Linked DNA regions of Homo sapiens: region 1 is linked to region 2. The links come from fine-mapping of genetic effects on gene expression. A gene starts in region 2. The other region holds a variant in brackets. All regions are shown on one strand. Distances are between the middles of the regions.

Evidence for each region. PIP is the estimated chance that this variant, and not a neighbour inherited with it, causes the effect. A credible set is the group of variants that fine-mapping cannot tell apart.
Region 1: its variant is the best candidate, but not a certain one, in a credible set for the expression of MED4 in rectum (CEDAR, PIP 0.61).

The regions. Positions count from the first base shown.
Region 1 is chr13:47,236,959-47,241,358 of GRCh38, forward strand. No RefSeq gene overlaps it. Among named protein-coding and RNA genes, the nearest start is that of HTR2A, 340 kb to the left of the region's middle. The variant C/CT (reference allele first, on the strand shown) is at 2,555.
Region 2 is chr13:48,093,073-48,097,472 of GRCh38, forward strand. MED4 (mediator complex subunit 4) reads right to left here and starts at 2,032. Exons shown (of 7, transcript NM_014166.4): 1 at 1,882-2,032. The coding sequence starts at 2,006. RefSeq lists a silencer at 1,241-1,535.

The DNA.
Region 1 (4,400 bases), 860 kb before region 2:
ATTTCTACCTTCAAGGAGTTTACATTTAATGAGGGCAACCAGCAGCTAACTAGATGATTATAATAGTGTAAACACTGACCCTTGAACACAGTAGTATGGTGACAAACTGCCCTGGTTTGCCCAGGACTCCTGAGTTTTCTGGGATATGGGACTTTCATTTTTTTCAAAAATGGTATAGTTCCTGGCAAACTGGGACACTTAATCACCTTAGCTGTGGGAGTATAGAAGAGGCAACCCATGACCCTGCTTGAAAAGGCAAAAGAACATTTCCCAGAAGAGGTGGTTCTAATGCTGGAATTTCAGACCAGGCAGGTGGGAGGTTCAATTCCTTAACAGCCTAGCCCAGTGGTGTCCACCTCATATTCTCATATTCTCCAGGGATCTCAGGAAGAAGGAGGCTCATGATGCTGGACTGGACATTTCTTCCTCCTCTTAAACACACACACACACACACACACACACACACACAGAGAGAGAGAGAGAGAGAGAGAGAGAAAACAAGAACATAGGCACAAGCAAGCAGGCAAGCAGCTTTGGCCTTTCTGAATGAAATCCAGCTTTTTTGAAAATTATTTTTAAATTCACAGTGAACCATCTCATACATTTTACTTCTTTCTGTAATCAAAGCTTGAGCCATATTTCTGGGCATCTAAAGTAGGATGCATTTGGAATTTTAAATCTGCTGTATTTAACTCTGCAAATATCAAAGAATGAAGAATCTTTATGAGAGGAAAAGGGCAGCTAAGCACTGTAGCAGCCTTCTCATTTGCTGGGTGACACTGAGTCACTGACGATGGTTCCTAGGGTATGGCAGAGTCACTACAGAGGCTCTCATGAGTGATCCAGGCAGGAGCACAGGCTGGAGCCACTGCTGAGGGCAGATGTTCTCTGTTCCAGAGGCAGAACACATCTCTGGAGGCTTGCTATGTAAGGGTGGCACAGAGCTGCCAGAAAACATAATAATTGCTGTGATTATGATTATAAGTGCCGTTTAATTGCTGTTGCATCATGCCAAATATCTTGGGAAGAAAAAAGTAGGGCCTTATGAATAAATGATCACTTAAAATATTTAAATAGATGATTATAATATACGACTTTAGAATACTTGACTTTACCCTGAAGCTGAATGTTTCCTGCAAAGTATGGCAAATTCATGGTCAGCAGTAAACAGTTTAGATGTCTAGTAACTTGAAATACATACAGTGCACCCTTGCTTAAGAAAACTTGTGTACATCTGAGTAATGGATAAATCAGACAGTAATTATGTAACATGGGGACTTAGGATAATTATTTCAGGAATGTATTGGGAAATATGTTGTATTGAAAAATGATCTGCTTTTAATTGTCCATTTCCAAAACAAAAAACAATCTTGAAGTTTACATAAAACTAAGCTTGGTTGAGAATGAAAGTTGTTTCCTCAATTCCCAAATCTCCCTTCTATGTAGTAAAATACAAGGCTAATATAACATAGTAGAAGAGTTTTACTATAAACCATGGTTTATCATAAGACATAACCCACCCCACATAAGTAGAAAGCCCTTTGCTGAGAGGAAAAGCAGAGGAATTTAGTGACGATGTCACTAGAATGGGAATGTTGCCGCCAGAGTCCCTGAAAGCAGACCTAGCACCTCGTATCTCCTGGGCCTCGAGCAATCAAATCCCAACAAAAAACCCAGCTAGGTTGAGAGGGAATGAAAGAACATTCTGGCTGTTGCTCTGTTTCTGGGATCAAAATGGTGCAAAAGCAATGAAGCTGTGAGTAGAGGGAGTTTTCTTGATAGACGGACCTGTAATAATAGTCTACAGTCTTCCATAGACTGCATACCAGGAATGTGGATCCATGTAGGGGAATAGGAAGGGACCCAAGGTCAGAAGACAAAGGCCGCAGGGCAGGGTTTGGCAAACTGTGGTCTGCAGGCCAACTCCTGTTACAGCCTACCTTTTTACAGCCCTGAGATATAATTTTAAAAAAATTTTAAAGGACTATAGAAAAGAAGAAGATGAAGGTGACAGAAGAGAGGGAAGAAAATGAGAGGAAAAGGAGGAAGGAACAGGAGGAGGAGAACAATAGTAAACAACAAGAAAAGTATGTGACAGAGACTGCATGTGATCTACGAAGTCTAAGGTATTTACTTTCTATCCCTGTATAGAAAAAGTTTGCTAAGCCCTGTTATAGAGCGCAGGGACCTCATATCCACGGCAAATTACAGTCACTGTAGACTTCAGCATCAGGAGCCAGGACAAGGCCAAAAGTCCAAGTGGGAGTAGGAACATCCAGGTGGATACCAGCACAGAGTCCAGAGCAAACCAGGCACACTACTAAAGAGACCAGGAAAGCAGGAAGGAAACCTATGCCACAGAAGCTTCTCCTCATAAATCCATGAGGATAAATAAGGTTCATCCTGAATCCAGACATGTCTCAGAAAAGGGGAGAAGGAAGGAAAACTCTGATGGGAAAAGAGGAATGATTGGGAGTTTGAACTTTGAACTGAGTATCACATGTGGCTGAGTTAACCTGAAAAACAAAGATAGTGTAAGCTTAAGGTTCTTCTT[C/CT]TTTTTTTTTGTATTTTAAGAGATGGGCCCTCACTCTGTTGCCCAGGACTGTCTTGAACCTATGACTTCAGGGCTGGTCTCGAGCCCCTCACCTCAGTCTCCCAAAGTGCTAGTATCACAGGCCTGAGCCACTGTGCCCAGCCCTAGCATATTTATCTTTTTTTTTTTTTTTTTTTTGGACACAGGGTTTCACTCTGTTGCCCAAGCCAGAATGCAGTGGTGTGATCATAGCTCACTGCAGCCTTGAACTCCTGGACTCAAATGATTCTCCTGCCTGAGCCTCCCAAGTAGCTAGGACTACAGGCATGTGCCACCATACCTGGCTAATTTTCTAATTTTTTGTAGAAACAGGGTCTTCCTGTGTTGCCCAGGCTGGTCCTGAACTCCTGGGCTCAAGCAATCCTCCTGCCTCAGCCTCCCAAACTTGGGATTTCAGGCATGAGCCACTGCACTTGGCCAGGCTTCTTTTTCTGTTGTTGTTGTTTTTTTAAATTATTATACTTTAAGTTCTGGGATATGTGTGCAGAACATGCATGTTTGTTACATAGGTATACATGTGCCATGGTGGCTTGCTGCACCCATCAACCCGTCATCTACATTAAGTATTTCTCCTAATGCTATCCCTCCCCTAGCCCTCCATCCCCCCAAGCAGGACCTGGTGTGTGATGTTCCCCTCCCTGTGTCCATGTGTTCTCATTGTTCAACTCCCACTTATGAGTGAGAACATGTGGTGTTTGGTTTTCTGTTCCTGTGTTAGTTTGCTGAGAATGATGGTTTCAAGCTTCATCCATGTCCTTGCAAAGGACATGAACTCATCTTTTTTATGGCTTCATAGTATTCCATGGAATATATGTGCCACATTTTCTTTGTCCAATATGTCACTGGTCATCATTCGGGTTGGTTCCAAGTCTTTGCTATTGCGAACAGTGCTGCAATAAACATACGTGTGTGTGTGTCTTAGTAGAATGATTTATAATCCTTTGGTCATATACCCAGTAATGGGATTGCCGGCTCAAATGGTATTTCTAGTTCTAGAACCTTGAGGAATTGCCACACTGTCTTCCGCAATGGTTGAACAGGCTTCTTAATTTGGGCCTCTTACCTTGTTTTCTGGGATGTTAGAATGGAACTCTGGGAGAATGGTTTCAGTCAGGATGAGCAAGTCCTGGAGATCTGTTGTGCTGCATGGTGACAATAATTAATGTATTGTGTGATTGGAAATTGCTAAGAGCTTAGATCTGAAATGTTCTCATCACAAAAACTAAGTATGTGAGATGATGGATGCATTAATTAGCTTGATTTAAACATTTCACAATGTATACATACATCAAAATATTTTTGGGCTGGGTGCAGTGGTCCACGTCTGTAAACCAGCCCTTTGGGAGGCTGAGGCAGGTGGATCACCTGAGGTCAGGAGTTGGAGACCACCCTGGCCAACATGGTGAAACCCCGTCTCTACTAAAAATACAAAAAATTAGCCAGGCATGATAGCAAGTACCTGTAATCCCAACTACTCAGGAGGCTGAGGCAGGAGAATCACTTGAACCCGGAAGGCGGAGGTTGCAGTGAGCCAAGATCATGCCACTGCACTCCAGCCTGGGCAGCAAGAGTGAAACTTCTGTCTCAAAAAATAAAATAAAATAAATTATATATATATATATATATATATATATACACACACACACTTTTATATATATATACACACACATATATACACATATATATATACACACACATATGTGTATATATATGTGTATATATAGTTGTATACTGTGTATATATATGTATATATAATTTTTGTCAGTTATACCTTAATAAAACAAAAGAAAAATTGAAAAATTTTGAA
Region 2 (4,400 bases):
GCATTCCCAGCATACTGCATTAGAATCCAGACACAATTCCCCATAGAAATAAAATTTCCATAGCGGTTAGAGCCTACATTATTAGCAGTAATACACTTTTCAGGTAAACAGAATTAACAGGCTGGTGTGGAAAACTCAAGATTCCTATCAACATGGTTCTGTGGAACAATGAGTTTTGAGTTACAAATGGGTTAAAAAAAACGTTTAGCCTACAACCTGTGTTTCAACTTTTTAAGACTATCTCCTTGCATTACATTTTATAAACTAATAAATATCCCGAAAGGCTATATAATCAGGTTAATAGAAAAAAAAAGATCCTAAGTTATAAATCCACTATTTTTAAAGAGGCTAAATCTAAAAATATGTAAGGTATATTCGTGATTTTTCTTCTCATTTTCATAAATGCAAGCCAGACACAAATTACATTCAGAGACTGACAAACTTCACAGATCACAGAATCAGTACACATAACTACCTCTGAGTGAACACATGAGACCTTTCTGGAAGCCAGTCACACCACCAGAGCAGCTTCATTCTGTGAAGAAGTTCCAATGATCCGCCCGCCTTGGCCTCCCAAAGTGCTCGGATTATAGGCGTGAGCCACCACACCCGGCCCTAATACAGTTTATTTTAAACAGTGGATCAAACACATAAGCCATTTAATTTCTGCTGTCTAGGTGTTTTCGGGTTTTCTTCCATCATTAAATATTGTGCTGACCTGGTAACTTGGTAGCAATACGATGGCAAGGACTAAATTTACACCAAAAATAAAGTGCTGATTATATCACGTATATTTTAAAATACAACAGGTAAGATTTATTCTAAAGCTGTCAAAGAATGTTGGCTATAGAAAAAGTGACATTTGAGCTGGATTCTGAAGGATATATGAATCATTCACCAAATCGGGAGTAGACTGGGAATGGCACTGAAGATGTGGAAGTCTGACTAAAGAATTTGAACTTTACCTCACTGGACAACGCAAACCTACCAATGAGGTAGCTTTTATATAATTTTTCTGCAGAAAAGTGATATAAGATGCCTTTTAAAACTGGTATCGGCCAATATAAAAGGATAAAGTGCAGAAGCATGAGGCAATTAAAACTGTTTGGGAGGCTACATTTAAGAAGGAGTTATGAACAGCGGGGTTGGAACGAGAGGGCAAATTGGAGCGACACTTTAGGAGGTAGAACCAAGATAATTTACCATCCAAGTCAATGGGAGGGAGTCAAGGAAGGCTTCAACTTGAAAGACTTATCATGAAAGGTGACAGAATATGAAGAACGACATCTAATTTCATCTCCTATCTCTGACACACAACCATCCTAAACAACTTGCAACTCCACCAAGCCAGGCTTTTTGCACTTGCTGTTCCATCTATCTGTGCTGCCTAGTGAGTTTGGCGAGCTCATGCTTCCCAAGCAGCACTTTCTTCAGAGGGCCTGCCCTGACTACAACCAAAAAAGGTGCCTAGTCCCTGTGCTCCAGTACCCCGCAGCGCAGCCCTCTAATAAAAACAGGCCCCAAGCCAGTTTACACATCTGTCTCTCTCTCGACAGCTGGCATCCAGTCTACCCTTCACTACCGTCTCCCCAATGCTGAGCCCCCAAGGAGCGTTCCATAAATGTTAAGTGGCTGGCCGCGGACGAAGAGGCTCAGACCGCGCGAGTTCTTATCATTACTAAAATTCCCTCTAACGGGAAAAACCGCCGCCCAGAGTGCCAGAGGGCTGCGGACCCCACGTCCATGACCCTCATGCACCCGAAACTCCCGAGCTGGCCCTCCCCGCCGAACCCCGAGAACGAGCACAAACGCAGGGCCGGCCGGCTCCGGGGTCAGTCCCCCGGCCCAGCTCCAGCCCGGCTCTCAGGCTCGCCGCATTACCTAGACAGGACCTCCAAGTCCTCAAGCGCAGACAGCAGCCGCTCTCGTGTGCTGTTACCACCCGCCACTCCCAAACCGCCTCCCAGCCGCTCCTTCTCCTTCTCACCACTCGAAGACGCAGCCATTTTCCCCAGAGTCCCGCCACCGGCGCACGCGCAGAGCGAGCTGACGCAGGTGCGTGGCGAGAAGGCGGGCTCGGAAGGCGGAAGAGTCACCCAGGAGAGGAAAAAGAGGCCTGGCGAGAGCGCCCCCTTTGGGCCTGGAGGCGCACTGCGGACACCGGCGCCATCTGTTGGGCCGGCGAGGGCTTTCTGGTCCAAACCCTGGGAGCGACAGCTGAACTGAGAACAGTGGGGGCAACGCAGTCTGATTCTCCTGGGCCTAATGGTTTTTTTTCTTTCTTTCTTTCTTTTTTTTTTTTTGAGACGAGTCTCGCTCTGTTGCCCAGACTGGAGTGCATCGCCGCGGATGTCTTGGCTCACTGCAAGTTCCGCCTCCTGGGTTCACGCCATTTTTCCTGCCTCAGCCTCCCGAGTAGCTGGGACTACAGGCGACCGCCACCACGCCCGGCTAATTTTTTGTATTTTTAGTAGAGACGGGGTTTCACCTTGTTAGCCAGGATGGTCTCAATCTCCTGACCTCGTGATCCGCCTGCCTCAGCCTCCCAAAGTGGTGGAATTACAGGCGTGAGCCACCGCACCCGGCCCACCTTAACCATTTTTAAGTGGATAGTTCAGTGGCATTAAATACATTCATACTGTTGAGCAACTATCCATCTCCAAAACCTTTTATCTTGTAAAACAAACTCTGTACTCACTAAATGCTAACTCCTTATCCCTCCCTTCTCCAGGCCCTGGCAACCACCATTCTACTTTCCATTGCTGTAAGTTTGGCTACTCTAGGTACCTCATATAAGCAGAATCATACAGTATTTGTCTTTTTGTGTCTGGCTTATGTCACTCAGCATTATGTCCTCCAGGTTCATCCATGATGTAGCATGTGCTGGAATATCTTTCCTTTTTAAGACTAATATTCCATTGTATGCATATGGCACCTTTTGTTCATCCATTCATCTGACGATGGACAGTTAGGTTACTTCCACATTGCTATAATCCATCTTTATAGCCATACATCTTCCAACAAAATGTTTTGCTCATTACTCAGGTTAATTATTGAACTGAAGGAACCAATACAGTACATAAGTAGTAGTTAATTAACATAGTTTAAGTCATTGATGTACCACACATTCCAAACCAGAACTGGTTGTCAAAGGCAAAAATACGTCTTAGCCTACTTTTCCTAGGGATAACAATGTAGTAGGGATCACTCTCTACCAGAAAAAAGCAAAGTTACAAGCCTATTGGGAATGAGGATTCCATATTGCTATTATAAAAGATGGTCTGGGACTGCCTCACTCCCATGAGGTAGTAGTACCTGTAGTCCTTTCATTTCAGGGTCTCATCCTCTACTCTGTCTTTTTGGAGGTGCTAAACCTGACTCCTGGGCACCCAGAGTTGACAAGTCTTTTAGAAATTCATGTTAAATAAATTCACTCATAGCAACTGCTGCGTAATCTAGAATGCTGATTTACTCACTTACGATGAAAAGTAATAGTGCCAAACATATCTTTTTCCCATAGACAAAACTATATGAGAAGCCATATTATCACAGGATGTTGCTTGTTAAACTTGGATCAGAACAAACAAGGATAGATTAAAAATTAATGACACAATCATGAGGCTTTGTGTCTCCACAGTGTAGGGATATTTGTGTTCAAGAGATTGGATTATTTGTGTTCATAGGTCAGGGTACCTTTTCCTCTAGACAGTGCAAGAGATCCTTGTCACCTTTTGTTTTCTGACCGTTCCCTGCATCTGCTGTTGGCTAACCCTTTTTTGTTAATGCAGTCAATTCTCAGGCAATGGGCTAAAGTAGATTGAAGCTTTGTTCATTACACTTGCATTCTAAACATGCCTCTCAGTACTCTAGTCAATCATTTCTTATGTTAAGTTTCCAGGGTGCCAAACTTCTGCGGTATGTGTTGGTTTTGTTTACTCAACTCTCACGGGTCATATTGAGCCATGACTCTGGTAGGAGGAGAGAGAACATTATATTAGTGTAAACATAAAAATTCTAGAAGGATTCTAATTAGTTAAAAATGACCAATTATAGTCCTACTTTGCAGACACTGAGGATCAGTGTGTGGAGCATGTATGTGTATTGTGAACTCCTGACCTCCTCAGATTTATTGCAAATTCATATGCATATTAAACAGTTTCTATAGACTGATAAGTAATAGCATCTTTCACAGATATACTGTCTTGCAAATTGTACAAATCCAGGCGTGATAAACAAATATGAATTATTTTATATAGTATTACTGAATTCATGGTAATTTGGAGTTAGGTACATATTTTCTCAATCTGTAGATTCAAAAAGGACACTACTTTCTCATGAAATTTTATTGACATGGTGGGCAGTGTTCTAAGCACTTCAAAAATATTAACTTGTTTAATTTT